Regions from separate parts of the Homo sapiens genome. Here region 1 is reported to be linked to region 2. The links are microRNA targets in miRTarBase. Many come from high-throughput screens and were not tested one by one. Region 2 holds a microRNA gene; the other region holds the end of a gene's coding sequence.

Evidence for each region. Region 2 holds the annotated microRNA hsa-miR-6771-5p (CUCGGGAGGGCAUGGGCCAGGC, at 1,949-1,970, opposite strand). A microRNA usually pairs through its seed, bases 2 to 8, with sites in the 3' UTR of a target mRNA and lowers its output. Matches are read on the target gene's strand: a 7mer-m8 pairs with bases 2 to 8, a 7mer-A1 pairs with bases 2 to 7 and ends in A, and an 8mer does both.
Region 1: miRTarBase lists TEX261 as a target of hsa-miR-6771-5p. Seed matches in the 3' UTR shown: 7mer-m8 at 3,166-3,172.

The regions. Positions count from the first base shown.
Region 1 is chr2:70,985,291-70,989,290 of GRCh38, reverse strand. It overlaps TEX261 (testis expressed 261), which reads left to right. Exons shown (of 6, transcript NM_144582.3): 5 at 274-376; 6 at 576-3,349. The coding sequence ends at 691. ANKRD53 (ankyrin repeat domain 53) reads right to left here. Exons shown (of 6, transcript NM_001115116.2): 6 at 3,792-4,000. The coding sequence ends at 3,991. Among named protein-coding and RNA genes, the nearest start is that of TEX261, 7.6 kb to the left of the region's middle.
Region 2 is chr16:50,290,443-50,294,590 of GRCh38, reverse strand. MIR6771 (microRNA 6771) reads right to left here and starts at 1,975; the gene lies at 1,916-1,975. It overlaps ADCY7 (adenylate cyclase 7), which reads right to left. Exons shown (of 26, transcript NM_001114.5): 3 at 3,931-4,134; 4 at 2,694-2,855; 5 at 1,766-1,915; 6 at 1,089-1,237.

The DNA of each region.
Region 1 (4,000 bases), not on the chromosome of region 2:
AGCACTTTGTCTGCCTCCTTCAGTCCAGGGGAGTTGCTTGTCCTAGCGACCAAGATATGGGGTTTGTGGCCACATTCAGTCATTTTCAGCCTCCACCTTTCCCCACAGAAGGATTTCCATGTCTGAGGGTGGCGTTCCCTGCTTCCCAGGCCTGGGCCCCCTTTGGAGATCAGGTGTGGCCCCCTGTGCACTCTTGACCAACACGCAGTCACCACACCCAGCCCACTCTTGGCACCTCCGGGGCACCCTCTTCTCAGTCTCTCTTGTTGCCAGGTCCTGGCCTATTTCACTTTCTGCCTGTGGATAATTCCGTTTGCGTTTTTTGTGTCACTTTCGGCCGGGGAGAACGTCCTGCCCTCTACCATGCAGCCAGGAGGTGAGAAGGGATTTGTAAGGGGCCCAGGTGGGGGCAAGCCAGCAAGGCCTGGGTTGGCAGGGGTCCACTGAGGGAACCTGAATCTAGCCCTGTGTTGGAGACACCTGGACTCGGGGTTGGGAGGGCCGTGTTCACACACATGCGCACACACACACACACACTCTCTCTCTCTCTCATATTCTTGCCTGTATCTCCACAGATGATGTCGTCTCCAATTATTTCACCAAAGGCAAGCGGGGCAAACGCTTAGGGATCCTGGTTGTCTTCTCCTTCATCAAAGAGGCCATTCTACCCAGTCGTCAGAAGATATACTGACCCCCATGCAGGCAGGATGTGGGGGGCAAGATCAGGAGAGTCAGGCCCCTGGGCCTCTATGCCAGGTGGGGACCAGAAGTCGGGAAGGCACCTACCACCTGCCCTGGCTTTCTTCCCCTCAACTCTGGAGCCCCATCCCCACCCTCCTTGGGGGGCTCAGCTTGGCTCAGATCTGATGCTTCAAGAGGCTGTAACCTCAGAGGGCACCAAGGAGGGTGGCAGAGCCTGCTTAGCCAGGAGGCCGAGGTCCCTCAGTCCTCCCCTGTCCCTTCCAAGGTGGGTCAGGAGGTTCTGGCCCCGCTGGGGCAGGCAGGGCAGGGTCTGTGAAGCTTAAGAGCAGATGGTGACAAGTTCTCTGGGCAGGTGGCCATGGGGAGGGGCCATGGCTTGGCATGTCCAACAGAAATAGTTTTTGCTGTTGAACGGTGATTTCTGTCCAAGTGCAGATTTCCGTTTGAATAAAGCTTCGCTTCTAGGTGGCACTGTTTGCCTTAATACCCTGACAGTTCATCTTCCTTTCTTCCTGCTAACCTTCTGCTCTGGACTGGACTCACTTTTCTGCTCCAGGGACTCCTTTTCTGGGTTTGGGTCTTGCCCTTCCCAAGGGACTGTTCTTGTGGCCCTTAATGGGAAGGGGGCAGGGGTGAGGAGCTGAGCCTGCTCAAGGAGTGGGAAGTGGGGCTATAGGCAGCCTCTCTGATGCACTCTCTTCCATCTCTTTCCCCAAGGCTCCGTGACTGTCAAACTGGGAGTAGGAGAGGGGACAATTTAGGACTGGGCTAGATTTTCAGAAGAACATCTACAATATCCTATTTATAAATCTTCCTCTGGGAAAAGGAGTGGTTTCTGGCTGAATACTATCTTAGGCTCAAGGAGAAACAAAATAAAAATTAGCTTCCAGGCAGCCTGTTTTTAAAGAAATGGGACTAATGGGAGAAGCTGTTTGTCACTCTAAGAGCATCCAAGCCCTGGCCCGTCTGTGCACTCTTGGCTCCTGGGGAGATATATCTGCCTTCTAAGAAGGCAGGCCAGGTCTTGGGCACAGACCTGCATTTGTTGACCTTGCACTCCAACTATAGTGCCTTGCAAGTGCTCAACAGTACATATTGGAATGAAGTCCCTATGAGAGCCATTTCTGGCCATGTTCTATACCTCAAAGTGAGGCTGGCAGGTACAGAGATGAACTGTACACATGTGATACATTTAAGCCACTGGAAAAACCCCTGTGCTTGAAAATATTTCCTCTATATCATGCCTGGAGTTCCATCATAGCCCTTCATTTCCTTGGCTTTAGCATTTACCTTCTCTTAAGAATACCAGCTTTCCCCTTTCCCTGAGAGGAAGAGCACATGTTGGTCTCCTCTTAGTGTGAACGAGATTGCCAGGCCCTTTTCTCCTATGCACACCAGGATAGACAAGGCAGGGGATACTGGCAGCCTGCATCATCCTCCCATTGGGCTGACAGCTGGCCCTACTTTCCTCCCTCTGCTGCTTGGTCCCTCACCTTGATGATGTGGCTTCGCCCCCTCCACTCTACTGCCAGTGTTCTCCCAGGGCTTGCTAAATCCAGCAGACCCCTTTCCTGTCTTACTAGATCTGGGCAGCATTTGACATGGCTGATCACCCCTTGCTTCTTGGATGGCACTTCCCTGGCACCTCTGTGGCTAGTTGTCCTACCTCCCTGGCTGTTCCTTTCAGGCTTCCGTGCAGGCTTCTCCACTTGCCCATGCACAGTAGGGTCTTTCAGGGTTCTGCTGTGGGCTCCCTAGGGAAGCCCATCCATCTGGATGGTTTCAAGGATGGTGAGGAATTTAGAGTTGACCTCCAGCCCCAACATCCTTCCTGATCACCTGAACCACAGTTTTGCTGCCCTCTAGGTGCACAGACAATTCAGGTCCATGGCCCAGATGGTACTTGCTGTCTTCTGCAAACCTGCCCCTTCTGGGTACTTCCCTTGACCCCGAGATCACTCAGGAGCCAGACAGGAAACTTATTCTATTCCTGTTTTCTCTTTCTGCCCACCACATCCAATCTCTCAAAACGGTCAGGTCTACCTTAACATCTCTTGATTTGAGCCACTCCCACTGTCATCAGCTTTCACCTGGATTATCGTGACAGCCTCCTACTGCTTCTCTATCATGTGGCCAGAGCTATCTTCCTAAAATGCATTGCATAGTTGATCAAGTCACTCTCTGGCCTAAAACCTTCCTTGGCTCCCTGCTGCCCTCAGGATAAAGTCTGGACCCCTCAGCATGGCTTGTGAGACTCATGGTGTCCTTGTCCCTGCTCACCTCTCTGGTCTCATCACTTGCCTTCTTGCATTCTGGGTCCCAGCCTCCTGTATCCAGAGATGCAGTGGCTCTCCATTGCCACTCTGATTCCTCCTTTCTTTTGGTCACAGAGAAAGGGTACTTTCTCTGTCAAATCTCAACTTAGACTTGACTTCCTCCAAGGAGCTTTGGCTATACTCTCTCCTCCCGACCCCCACCCTGGCATACTACACAGATCACTCTGGGCTCACTTGCCTGCCTAATGGTCATCTCCCCAGTAGACTGTAAGCTCCTTGAGGGCAAGGATTGTGTTGGAATTTTTGTATTAACAGTGCCTGGCTTGGTGCCTGGCACCTAGAAAGCACTCAATAAATGTTTGTTTAATGAATGAATTGTAGTGATGTGTACAAGGGGATACAGGGAAGCCAGTTAACTTCCTGGAGGAAGTACAAGTGCTTTCATAGACTCGAATGGAAACCACACATCCCTCCCCTCCCTTGATGTACTGCCCATGCCTCCCTGAACTGCAGAAACCTCAGTAGCCGCTGGGAATAAGGATGGCAGCCCAGAGTAGCAGGGAAGCCCATGCCAGGGGGACATATTAGTTGCCCTCCACCCCATTCTGGGTCTCAGCTTAGAGCCTGCAGCAGGAAGGGCTTAATCTGAACAAGAAACAGAATTTCCCAGTGGGTCCTTCCATCCTGGAAGCCTGGGCCCTTAGGGCTGGGAGGGCAGTGGGGGTGCCAAAATGTGACAACTTTTACAATGCCAAGGTGAAGAATAGTGTCTGACCCCCCACTCTCAACCTAACTTGGATTTCCTGGCGGCGGTGGGGGGGTGCCAAGAGATTTATTTGCAGAGAAAAGGGAGGCCTGGGGTCTGGGCTTTTGATTGGGAAGGGTGACTCCTCGAGCTTGGGAGTGGGAAGCCCATAGGCACCCCTCCCCCTTTCCTCGCCACCCACAACGTGAATTGCCACACTTCAGCCTTCACTGGGCTGCCTCAGGGGGAGAGGTAGCCATAATAACTTTATGGGTTG
Region 2 (4,148 bases):
AGCAGCAGCAGGAGCACGCAGGACTGTCTGGAGCCCCAGGAGCCTGCCAGGCCTGAGCCCATTCACCCCCGTCCTTCCTCAGCCTCCATAGGGATGGGAGAGTCGCGCCCAGCCATAGAGACAGATTAAAGTTCCAGGGGCTTCACGTTAAAGCAGAAGGGAGCAAAATTCAGAGCCTACAGGAGCCCTCGGCCCCACCCCAGGCCCTATCACTGCAGACAGCCGAAGGGCACTCCTGCAGGCAGCCCGGAGCCTTCCCCTTTCCCATCCAATGTTCACCACAGCACAGACTTCAGAACTCCCTGGTGAGAGGCAGCTCCATGCTCCCTCAAGCCAACCTCCACACCCAGCACTTTACAGGCATCGAGTCCTCACACAGCCCTTGCCGAACTCCCGTTCTACAGATGCACAAACTGAGGCTCCAGGACATTGAGACTTGCTGGGAAGCCAAGAGCTGGCATCTGCACCAGTTCTCCCTGCTCCAAAGTCCTTAAGCTCATGGACCATCCACAGCCCAGAGAAAAGGCAGCGGGCCAGCCTTGGATGTAATGCTGGCGCTGCAGGCAGAGGACCCAGGGGGTCTCCTGGGACCCACATCTACACTCAACGGCACCCAGCACCCACATCGACACTTGACAAACTCAGGTCAGTGCATTCAAGTAAAATTTTGTGGTTCCCTGCAAATCAGCCAAAGACAGGTGTCAGAACCGGGGCACTCTTGGGCACCAAGGCCGGGGGGCTTTACCTCATTCTGGGGGTCCTGTGCTCCCTTGAGAACCATCTGAAAGGACCCCTTCCTTCACAAAAGCTATGTTTGCTCACACAGTTTTACAGTTTTGGGGGTGTGCTAGATCTTTCAATACCAATCTAAATTCTCTAATTTAAGAGCCCTGATCTGATCCTGCCCACAAGTGGGGGTTCTGAGACCCAGGGAGGGCCCCAGATTGACCTGGAACCATGGGGCCCTCTCCCAATCCCTATATGGGCAGGGGTCTGAGCCTCCAGATAGGGCGGGGAGGCCGCCTGGGGGCCGGTGGAACGGTGGGCCCAGTCCCCGGGATATGCTAATCACACGTCTCACCGCCCACCTGACATTCTGGTGCCTCTTGACGTAGAGGCTGTGGAAGTTGTTGTCAGGCATGCAGCGACGGTCACCATGCTCCTTGAGCCGTTCGATGATGGCCAGCTTCATGCCCATGGAGATGTGGGCCGGAAGCACTGACAGCAGCAGGTTCTCCTGGGTGTGGGTGGGCAGACCAGCAGAGGGACCAGCAAAGCGACCGGCGGAGGGACCAGCGGGGGACAGGCAGGGTAGCATCAGGTCCCAGACCTGGCCTCCTTGGCCCCCATCCTCCCTGCCTGCCTGCCCTGCCCACAATGTCCCCATCTCTGCTCTTGTCCTCCACCAACCCAACTGAGCATCTACCTCCCATGTACCCAGCAGCCCCCGGGACTCAGGGTGACTGAGAAAGGGCTCTTTCAGCTGGGGAGGCTAAGCTGATGGGTGAGCAGCCTGGAGCCACTACGGCCTTCTCTGCCGCCACCTGGGGACTGCGTGCCCAGGACTGAAACCACACAGAGGAAGGCAGAGTCAAGGGTCAGCAGGCTATGGTTACCCTGCTGGAGCCCAGGACTCACCGAGGTGAGACCTGCATGGGTGTCTGGCCATGCACCTCATGCACATGGCAGCATGAGTGTCTCATGTCCAACAGAAAGAGGAAGAGGACAGGGGTGTACAGGGTGAGGAGTGGGGGCCGGGTCCCACCTGCTGGCGCTTCTCGATGCGCAGCTTCCGGCGGATCTGGATGCACTTCACAGTGTAGGTGAAGAGGTCCCGGGATGCATCCTGCATTTGGTGCTTGTGGAAGGCGCCTGTCAGGTTCCCACACAGGAAGATGACTGCGTTGGCCAGCAGCTGCGGGTAGACAGGGGTTTGGCTCATTATGTGGCCTGGCCCATGCCCTCCCGAGGCACCAGACCCCTAGGCGGACTAGTGATGGCACCTCTTCCCATTCCCTGACCTTCAACCCACTGAGAATGGCACTCTTCCTGGGGCAGACAGGGAAACTGAGGCCCAGACAGGAGCTAGTCTCCTAGTGAGTCACTAGGACTGCAAGACCAGGACACCCAGGGAGGCAGAAGAGACCACCTCACAGAGCCCAGGGCCCGAGGGGCATGCGTGCTAAGGGCAGTCCCAGAGGGCACAGCGCCCAGCTGGCTGTGTGGAGGGCCAGCCTCTGCCTGGAGAGGACACCAGGCCTGGTCAGAGGGAAAACACTTCTCTAAACACCCAATAATTATGAACAGAAGATTCACTCATTCAACACAAAGACACAAGGCAGTGCCCTGGGGTACTCCCCCAAGCCCCGCCAGGACAGGGCCTTCGAGGGGAAACTTCGGCAATGGGACTCACCCCACGACAGTGTCCCTGAACCGGGAGGCAAGGCCTGAGGTCACGACCCTGAGGGCTGAGCCACAGGGGAGCCCTAGGCCAGCAAAGCAAAGGCCAGAGGGCAGGGCCACGCCTGGAGCCCAGCTTCCGAGCAGACGTGGAGAGGGCCCGGCCTTGGAGCGGGCTGTCTGCAAACACGGCTCCGGGGCCTTCGGGTCTGATTCACCCAGAGGGGGCCCCCCCATCTGCCCTTAGACCCAGACCACAAAACCTCCCCCAGAGGCCTTAGCCCATCCCTCACCTGCAGCCCCACCCGGACACTGGGTGTCGTGAAGCCTCCCATCAAAGAACCGAGCACCAGGAGGTGGGAGGCAGTGGAGACGGCCCCAACGGCGACAGCGCCCCGCATGCTGAAGGGCAGTAGTGTGTACACCACGAAGACAATGAACAGGAAGAAGGGCACCTGTGGATGCAGCCTGGTGAGCCCGGTGCCCCAAGATGCTGCCCCAGGCCGTACAGCCCCCGGAACCCTGCACCACAGCAGCCCACCCAGTGCGTATCCTTAGGTTGGCTCCCTCGCCACCCCCTGCGTGGGCAGACATACAAGGGAACAAGAAAAGCCATAATGTGTTTCTAGGGTGGGCCCGGCCACAAGGTTCATGGTTTCCTGTGCTGATCCACTGCCTGTGGCCACCCTAGGTGGGAGGCTCCATGCCCCGCGTGATCCAGGGAGCCCCCACCTGGTGCCCCTGCCACGTGGTTCTCGCTCAGCAGAAATGATTACCGGGAGGCTGAGGCACCCTCTCACCAGCTGCCTCCAGCAATGCGGCCCCACCCGCCCTCCCTCCACCCCCAGAGCTGCCCCACCATCCCCACCGGCTGGTCCTGCGTCCACCCCTCTGGGAGTGCTGCCCTCTCCCTCCCCTTCAGTCCACATGGTTTCCTTGGGCCTCACCCCACCCTGCCCCAGCCACAGGAGCTGTCATAGGACCCAGGCCCACTGGTCAGAGTGTGCTACCGCTTGGTGACAGCCTCTCTGGGACTGGGCCCATGACCACAGCCAGGCCAGTGTGGCTCAAGCCTGCAGGTCGAGCTGGTTGAGAAAGGGCCCTCTCTCTCAACTGGGGTGGGCAGCCTGGAGCCGCTGTGAACTTCTCTGCCCCCACCTGGGGACAGCGTGCCCGGGGCCGAAGCTGTCCAGAGGCCCCAGTTCCAGTTACCCACTGGAGCCCAGCACTGACCCCTTGGCCTTTCCTGACACAGGAACCAGTTTGTGCCTTTTTGCCTCTTTGAGCTGAAGTTCTGTCATCTCCAACCAAACTGGAGCCACCCAAAAGTGCTGCAGCCCAGCGTCCGAGTGGATGCTCTCCCCACCTCAGCCCTGTCAATGCAGAGAACTCACAGGGACAAAACCAGCCTGGGGCCATCCTAGACACACAGCCAAGCGTGGGGCACGAAGGGCCTGTGGCATGCCCACCAACCACGGGGATGGGAGCTGCTGAAGGCGCAGCTGGCAGGGAGTCCAGAGTTCCTGTTACCTGCTCCCACGCACAGGCCGCCTTTGTCCATGCGTCGAACACCAGCACATAGCCCAGCGCCACCAAGCAGGCCCAGGTGAGCAGCGCCAAGGCCCTGAGCCAGCGCCGCAGGAGACACTCGACGTACATCAGCACAGAGAGGGCCGCAAACACCGCCAGCACCAGGAACGCCATGCCCAGAATGGCCTGGTGTCTGGAGGGGTCCTGGGTGGAGCAAA